2 linked regions of the Homo sapiens genome follow. The gene in region 1 interacts genetically with each later gene. Each region holds a gene or a part of one and is shown on either strand. Other genes may lie near its edges.

Region 1 (3,650 bases):
CACAGAGTTGTGTAGAAACTGATCCTGGGAGGGAAGCTGAGAGAGTCCATGATGCGCAGGGCCAAGGTGCCTCTAGAAGTTCTCCAGCAAGCCCAGGATGCGCTTTTGCTCGTTCTCCCGGAACTCCGGGCTCCGGCCGTCCCCGATGTTCTCTGCATACTCTAGGGGGACAAAGATAGAGTCAGGAGTGGATCCCAGGCATGGCATCCACCGTGGCTGCGTCGCTTCATACCTTTCCCAGAACCCCAGCTCCCACAGAGGTGCAAGTCGCCCTAATGCCCCCACTGTAGCCAAATTCCTTGGGGTCTTGCCTTTGAGGCCTCAGTGGAAAGGTCCCAACTTACCTTTCCATGCTTGGATTCCCCTCCTAGCCACACCCTTCACTTCCGCCCTCATGTATTTATTCACTCAACACACATGGCGTGGATGCTACTAAGGTCTGAATGTTTGTGTCCCCTCCAAAACTCATGCTGAAACCTCATCCTCAACGCATCGAAGGCCTTTATGGGGTGATTAGGTTCTTACCATCTAATTATAAGATTAGATTAGGTCTAGATTAGGTCTAATCTAGGGGGATTAGACCCTTGCAAAAGGACTGCAGGGAACTCTCAAGACCCTTTGCCCTTCCCCCTTCTGCAATGTGAGGATGCAATAGGACGGCCCTCAGCAGACACCAAAGGTTGGGGCAGTGCTCTTGGACCCCCCGCCTCCAGAATTGTGAGGAAGTACATTTCTGTTCTTCATAAATTACCCAGTCTCAGGGATTTTGTTACAGCAGCACGAACAGACTAAGACAGACACCAGCTGGGCAGGCACTGCTCTGGGTGAGTGGTTCTGAGTGTGGACCCGAGCAGCAGCAGCAGCAGCAGCACTGCATGGAAACTTACTAGAAACACAAATTCTTGGGACCACCCTAGACCCACTTAACAGGAAACGGGTGGGGCCCAGTGATCTGGGATTTATTGAGTCTCCAGGTGATGCTGATGTATGCTCCAGTTTGAGAACCTTTTTTTGGGAATGGGAATAAAGCAGTGATAGAAACAGATGCAAATTTCTGCTTGTGTGGAGCCTACTTTCTAGTGAGGGTCACAAACCAAAAAGTGAACAAAATACACAGGTGGCTGTCAGCAGGGAGTATCTGCTTAAAGATCAGAAGGAGATGAGTGTGGAAAGGTCTAGGAGCGAGTGGCAGGGCAGCCAGGGCAGAGGATCTAAGGGGAGGCACTTCTTTGGTTTATCTGAGGGTCAGCGAAGAGGTCAGCGTGGCCACAGCCTGGAGCCACGGGAGGGGCCATACCCAGATGGTGTGGGTCTGTGCACCACGGTAAGGGCTGTGGCCTTTCTGTGCGGTGGGTCCTGAGCAGAAAGGAATGACGTGATTTGACTTTTGCCAGATCCCTCTCAATGCTGTGTGGGGGACACCATGGGGGAAGCAAAGGCAGGGAAAGGAGATGCGACGTGACAGTGGCCTGGATTGGGCAGGTAGCGGTGGAGGTGAGGCGACGTCTTCAGCTTCTTGATGTTTTCTGAGGGTGGCTCCAATAGGATTTACAGATAGACCGGAAATGGGGTGTGAGAAAGAGATATGGATGTTGCAATCACCAAGAAATATGACAAGAGCATTGGGGAGGCTGACAGTGAGCCCAGAATCCCCGCAAGGACTGGGGGCACAGGTGCTGGTGCCAACAACAGGGAGGGGCTGTCGGGGGGTGCAGTCCCCCGACACAAACTTCGACAGCTGGGTGTATTCGGGGAAGGGAGGGAGAGAGAATAGTCTAGAAGTACTGGAGCATGGAAGACCCCTCCTATGTCTCCAGTGGCAGGAGGGGTGTAGGAGCACCAGGTTTCAGTGAGACCAGGAAGAGAAAGGAAATATTCCTGAGGAGGGTGAGGCTCTGGGCACAGTTCTGGCAACAGATCAGCAGAGGATGCCATCAGAGAGTGTCATGGTGGGCAGGCTTGTGTTCTTGTCTCCCCTGTTGTCCCAGCACAGTGATCCTTAAGACGCCATTTCTTTTTTTTTAGTGTCCTCGTCCCCCAAAATAACATGGTCACCCTGTTTTTTTTTTTTTTTAGGAGATGGCGAGGGATGATTTGGTGACTCTGGACTTCCTGCGGTGGCTCCTAGAGCAAGTGTAGGGGATCTGGTGGGAGGGGAAGGGGGAGGATGGGGTGGTCCAACCCTTCACTGCCCTCTGACTGTCCCCTGCCCACAGCCAGAGAGGAAAAGGCAATCAAATCCTAGCTCTGACTCACAACTGTGCCCTTGGGTGGTCCCCTCTGAAAATGTTCAAATAACAAACGTCCAGGGAACATTAGTTCCCTCCCTCAGCCTCCTTTGCTCAGGCCAGTAATGGCACTGGGGAAGTCCCACACCTCCTCCGGGTCCCCTCCTGAGATGTCTTCTCTGTGAAAGCCTGCCTGGTCACCTCTCACTCCCACACCCGGCCCCAGGCCACTGCCTCCAGCACATGTGGGCCTGACTGCTAGACCATCCTCCACCCAGCCCCTCTCTCCCTAGACAGAGAGCTGCATGAAGGCAGGGGCTTTCGCCTTCCTCCCAGCTAAGCCTGGCCGAGGGCCCCCCAGCAGAGTGTCGTGCTGAAGGATCTCCTGCAGTGGGTGACTAGGATGGCTGCCTGCACTTCTGCCCCCTGGTCCCTTACTGGGGCCTGGCTTGAGAAAGAAAATGGAGAGAACTCTCTAGTAAGAGGCTTTTGCATAATAAAACACCTGCTGATCCAAACCAGACAAAGACTGGGGAGACAAAGCATGTGACCTCTCACCCCTCCCCTGTCAGCCCCACCCCTGCCAATGCTGGGGAAGTAATTTTGCTCCTGCTACCTCTTTATTTTGCCCCGTTCCTCTTTATTACTTTGGTCGTGTGCCAGAAAATGGGATGTGGGATTCAGGCATGTGCCAGCTGTGTGTCTACCCCCAGAAATCCTCTTCTGTTAGGCCCATCCATCACCTCCAACAGCAAGTGGTTGTGATGCCTCCTATTAAGGCCCCTTAGAGAGAGGGCCAGGGTGATGGAGACAGGAACTGAGCTTTGGCAGAAGGCTCTGGGGCTGTGTGTAAGTGGTATCTCTTACTCACATGTGAATGATATAGTTGCTGCCCCAGGAGAGAGAGAAATGACCATTATGGCATCTAATATCCCCGGAGGCATGGTCTGGAAGCAGGAGTCTTAATGGATTGAGCTAACACTTTGCTCTCCTAATGTCTTCTCAGACCCAGGAGAGAGGGAAGTGGAGAAACAGTCCGATGCTGTGGGGCAGTGATTTTCCAACAGTAAAGCCGGCTTCCCTGAGTTCTTTCTAGGGATGTACGAAGCAGAGGGAACCCACACCTGCATCAATCCCTTTGCCGAATCACCTGTGCCGAGGCCTCGCTTACATATGCCGACGGTACACAGAGCACCCATCCTATGCGCAAGTCTCCTGTGTCACTCCAACTGTGCTAAGAAGCAAACAGTCACATCACCCATTCTCTGGAAAGGGGATATCCGACTGGCCCACAGGCAGTGAATGGCTTAGTGTCCCCTGGAAGAGGGCCTGTCCCATACAGAGCGGAGTGGAACTAACATGTGCTGTGCACTGCTATGTGCCTGCATTTTCTAGGTTGTCTCACATGTAACCTTTGCATCA
Region 2 (3,650 bases), on another chromosome or scaffold:
TGACTTTGGAATGAATTCCATGATTTTTGTTGGCATGAGTTTCTCCTTCCCAGTTAAAATGCATAGGCAAATGGAATTTATTTGCATTCCCTTAGCAGGTAATAATCTTACCACTGTCTGAGTGCTGTACAATTTCAGAGCACCGTTCCTTACACAGCTTCAGTTTCTGACTTGGGAATTATTCTTAGTTATGATGATGGTGAGGCTTTAGCAGGAACGGGGACTAGGGAGGCCCCCTCAGGAATTGCTGCTCCAGCTCACAGATGGTTTTGCCTGGCAGGAGCTGATGGGAACTTGGTATTGTTACAAGGTGAAACAACATAGTTGACATTAATGTCTCTTGATGTGGATAAGACACATTGTTCAACTCACATCCCTCTTGTCTGTCTATACAGCCCTGTTCATTTAAGCCCACCTGGCCTCTTTTTGGTGGCATGCTTATAAAAAGTAGGCAGTGATCAGTGGCTTGAGATTAAGGAAATGATAAGCCGTGTCTTTGAAAGCAGATGCTCCTATTTATAACTCAGACATCCTATACTTTTACATTCCATGAGGTGGGGAACAGGACATGACTGACCACAGGGAAATGGTGGCAGGGCAGGTGCCTCGCCCGTTAGAAGCCTGCCCTCCCTCCAGGCTGGGAAATGCTTATTGTTAGGCAAATACTGAGGCATGTTGTGGGGTACCTGCAGCTACAGGATAATGTTAATTCAGCTTTTTGTGTATTAAGTGCCTACTCTGTGGTGCTTATGTGCTGAGGATGCAAGACAAGGATCTCTGCCCTCATGGCTCACATTGTTGAGGGGTGGGGATGTCATCGTTACCTAAAGCTTAAGGGGGAAAGAGCCTTGTTCAGTGTACCTGCAGGCACATCTGCATGAGCTATGGCAGGAAACTGAAGAGAAAGCTGGGGGCTTGTGCCAGGCTCCACTCCCAGGCCTTTTGGGGTGTGTCTTCTCTTGTGTCTGCCATTGGGTGGAATTGGATTGCACGTGCACGCAGTCCGCTCCTCTGCACAGCCAAGGCTTTCTGGGGCCCCGAAATGAAACCTTACAGTACCTTGGAAGTCCAGCCTGGGTAGCTTTGTCCAGCCTGTCCAACCCGGGTACCCGAGGATCTGCTGTGACCCAGAAACATGACTTAGGTTATAGCCCAGCCCCCATTTTACTCACAAGGAACCTGAAGCTTGAGAGCTTGAGTGACCGGTGTGAACAGCAGGCCTGGGATTCGGATCCCTGTCAGCCCAAGTCATGTGCTGGACCCCACTCACTGTGTTTTCCAGAACACAGTGAGCAGAGGGCCCCGTAAATACAGGATCTTGTCCCATTTCCCCTTGCAGCAGATCCACCAGTGAGGGTGCGGTGTGGAATTCCAGGGGATGCAACTGCAAGATCACCCATATTGGGACCAGCTAGAGCCATATGCTATTTCCAGACCTAGGCTTTCACAGATTCATGTTTCAGTGGAAGGAAAGGGAGGTTTAATGGTTATGGAGCACCAGCCACATGCTATGCACTCTGTTAGAACGGTCCTCACCACAGCCTGACAAGGTAGGTTCAACTTTAGGCTGGAGGCAGCATAGTACAAGAAAATAGAGTTAGGAGCCAGACTGCTTTAGGATAACAGTACCTCTGCATAAGGTCGTAATGAGGGTTAAGTAATATCTGTCAAGTGCATCCAGTAGCATCTGGCACATAGTGATGTAAACATTAACTATTGTTATTATCACCATTTTCCAAAAGTGTGCAAAGGGGTGTATGGTTAGTCCCTGTCTAGCTACTAAGTGGAGGAATTGGGTTTTCTGACTCCAGAGCAAACCGTTTTTCTCCACTCCGTACTGCCTGCCGATGGCTGCTTTGGAGTTTGTCTGGCTCTGGGTTGTGCCTTGAACGCACAACTTACCTAATAGAGCCTGGGGCTCTTTTCTCCATTAAAGACAAGCTCACTGTGAGCTGGGCACCATGTGTTGCCAGAGCCTCATGCTATATGTCAGGCCCGAATTCCTTGTTTGTGCCAGTGGAACCCCCTGTGACTGGAGGGTTCCTGCCCTCTTCCAGGCTTGGAAGAAGAGAGACAGGGCTGGGGACAGAGCATATGAGCTCTGTGAGAGCAGGGACCTTGTCTGTTTGGTTCCCTCTGAGTACCCCACACCTTGCACTGGCCGCCTGGCACTTAGCGCCAGCTACATAAACACTGAGTGAGAGCTGAGAGGCGGCTGCCTGCTCCACAGAACATGGTCTCTGCAGTTGGGCACATCTGGATTTGAGTCCTGTCTGCCACTCAGCATGTGACTGTCAGTGAGGCGGCTAATTCCCTTGGTCTCAGTTTTCCTGTTCCGTCGCATGAGGATAACATTTTATAGAGATGGGGAGTAGGGGTGAAATTTGTAATGTACTTACTCCAGTGCTTGGCACACAGTAGCTGTGGTTGTTGCATGTCTTATTCTGCATACCACAGAATAAGGGACACAAATAGAAGCCATCATCCCTGTCCTCTAATCTGGGAGGGGGAGGCAAGATGCGTCCAAAAAGCCAAGTGCAGCAGGAATGAAGTAGTACTAGAAAAGACTTAGCCAGGGACCCATGGGTGCTGTGGTCTGCCCATCCCTGCAGGCCTGGCTTGCATTTCCCCCTCCTCCACGCAGCCCTGCAGACCACTCCAGCCTGCAGTCGGCTTGGGGGCTGGGCATGAAGCCTGGGAAGAGTGTGCTCAGGCAGAGAGGACAGGGTGGGGTATGGTCAAGGGGACTGGCACAAAAGCAGAGGTCAGGGGGTGTGGTCACACAAGCAGTAGATGCGAGCCCATGGGGTGCCTCAGTCTCAGGAGTGAGTTGTGGAGTGCCTGAGTTGCTAAGCTAAGGAGTTTGCATTAGATCTGGGACAGTGTGGAGCCAGTGAAATTTTTGACAGGGCAGGTAGAAATTCGAGGAGGCTGGCAGAGCGGTGGTATTTTAGGAAGAGCCCTCTGGCTGTGCATGCAGGAGGCCTGGGAGGTGAAAGAGATGGGAGAGAGGCCTCCACAAGCATCAGCTTGTGAGCTTATGAGGGTCCTGGCCACTGTGCAGCTGTGGGTGTGGAAAGGAAGGGATGGTGGAAGGAGATAAAGGCAGAGTGACACGGAATGATTTACCACCTCTGGAGCTGAGGGGGTCTGCCCCAGAGCTGTCCCATGTAGGTGTTCTGATTGGACAGTTTATCATTGACACACAGCTATTTCAGGTCAGTCTAAATCCTAGATAGTGGTGTCTGCAAAGCCTTGAGAGCCTGTTAACAACTGAATGGGGATTTCAGTCTGGGTAGCCCAGTGATCCATCCAGCCAGTGACTCTGTGACTGCAGGTGGCACCAAGTTCAGCCTGATGCACACAGCATTAGGTTCTGGTGCCTAAGACACCAGTCTGCTGAGGGAGATGGTGGGGTGGCGGGCTCTGCATGGCAGCTGTAGGAATAACAGAAGCTAGTTTTTTTTTGTTTGTTTGTTTGAGACAGAGTCTCGCTCTGCCACCTAGGCTGGAGTACAGTGGCACGATCTCGACTCCCTGCAACCTCCGTCTCCTAGACTCAGGGAATTCTCTTGCCTCAGCCTCCCAAGTAGCTGGGACTACAGGTGCGTACCACCATGCCTAGCTAATTTTTTGTATTTTTAGTAGAG

Evidence for each region. Genes that interact genetically often act in the same process or in processes that back each other up.
Region 2: changes in CTNNBL1 (region 1) and CAPZB together harm fitness less than expected from each alone (positive genetic interaction), as found in Homo sapiens cells (one large-scale study listed by BioGRID).

Annotation. Positions count from the first base shown.
Region 1 is NC_000020.11:37,868,436-37,872,085, reverse strand, and holds part of CTNNBL1 (beta-catenin-like protein 1), read right to left. Parts: intron 162-3,650; coding exon 73-161; 3' UTR 1-72. UniProt on the Homo sapiens protein: Component of the PRP19-CDC5L complex that forms an integral part of the spliceosome and is required for activating pre-mRNA splicing.
Region 2 is NC_000001.11:19,479,040-19,482,689, reverse strand, and holds part of CAPZB (F-actin-capping protein subunit beta), read left to right. Parts: intron 1-3,650. UniProt on the Homo sapiens protein: F-actin-capping proteins bind in a Ca(2+)-independent manner to the fast growing ends of actin filaments (barbed end) thereby blocking the exchange of subunits at these ends.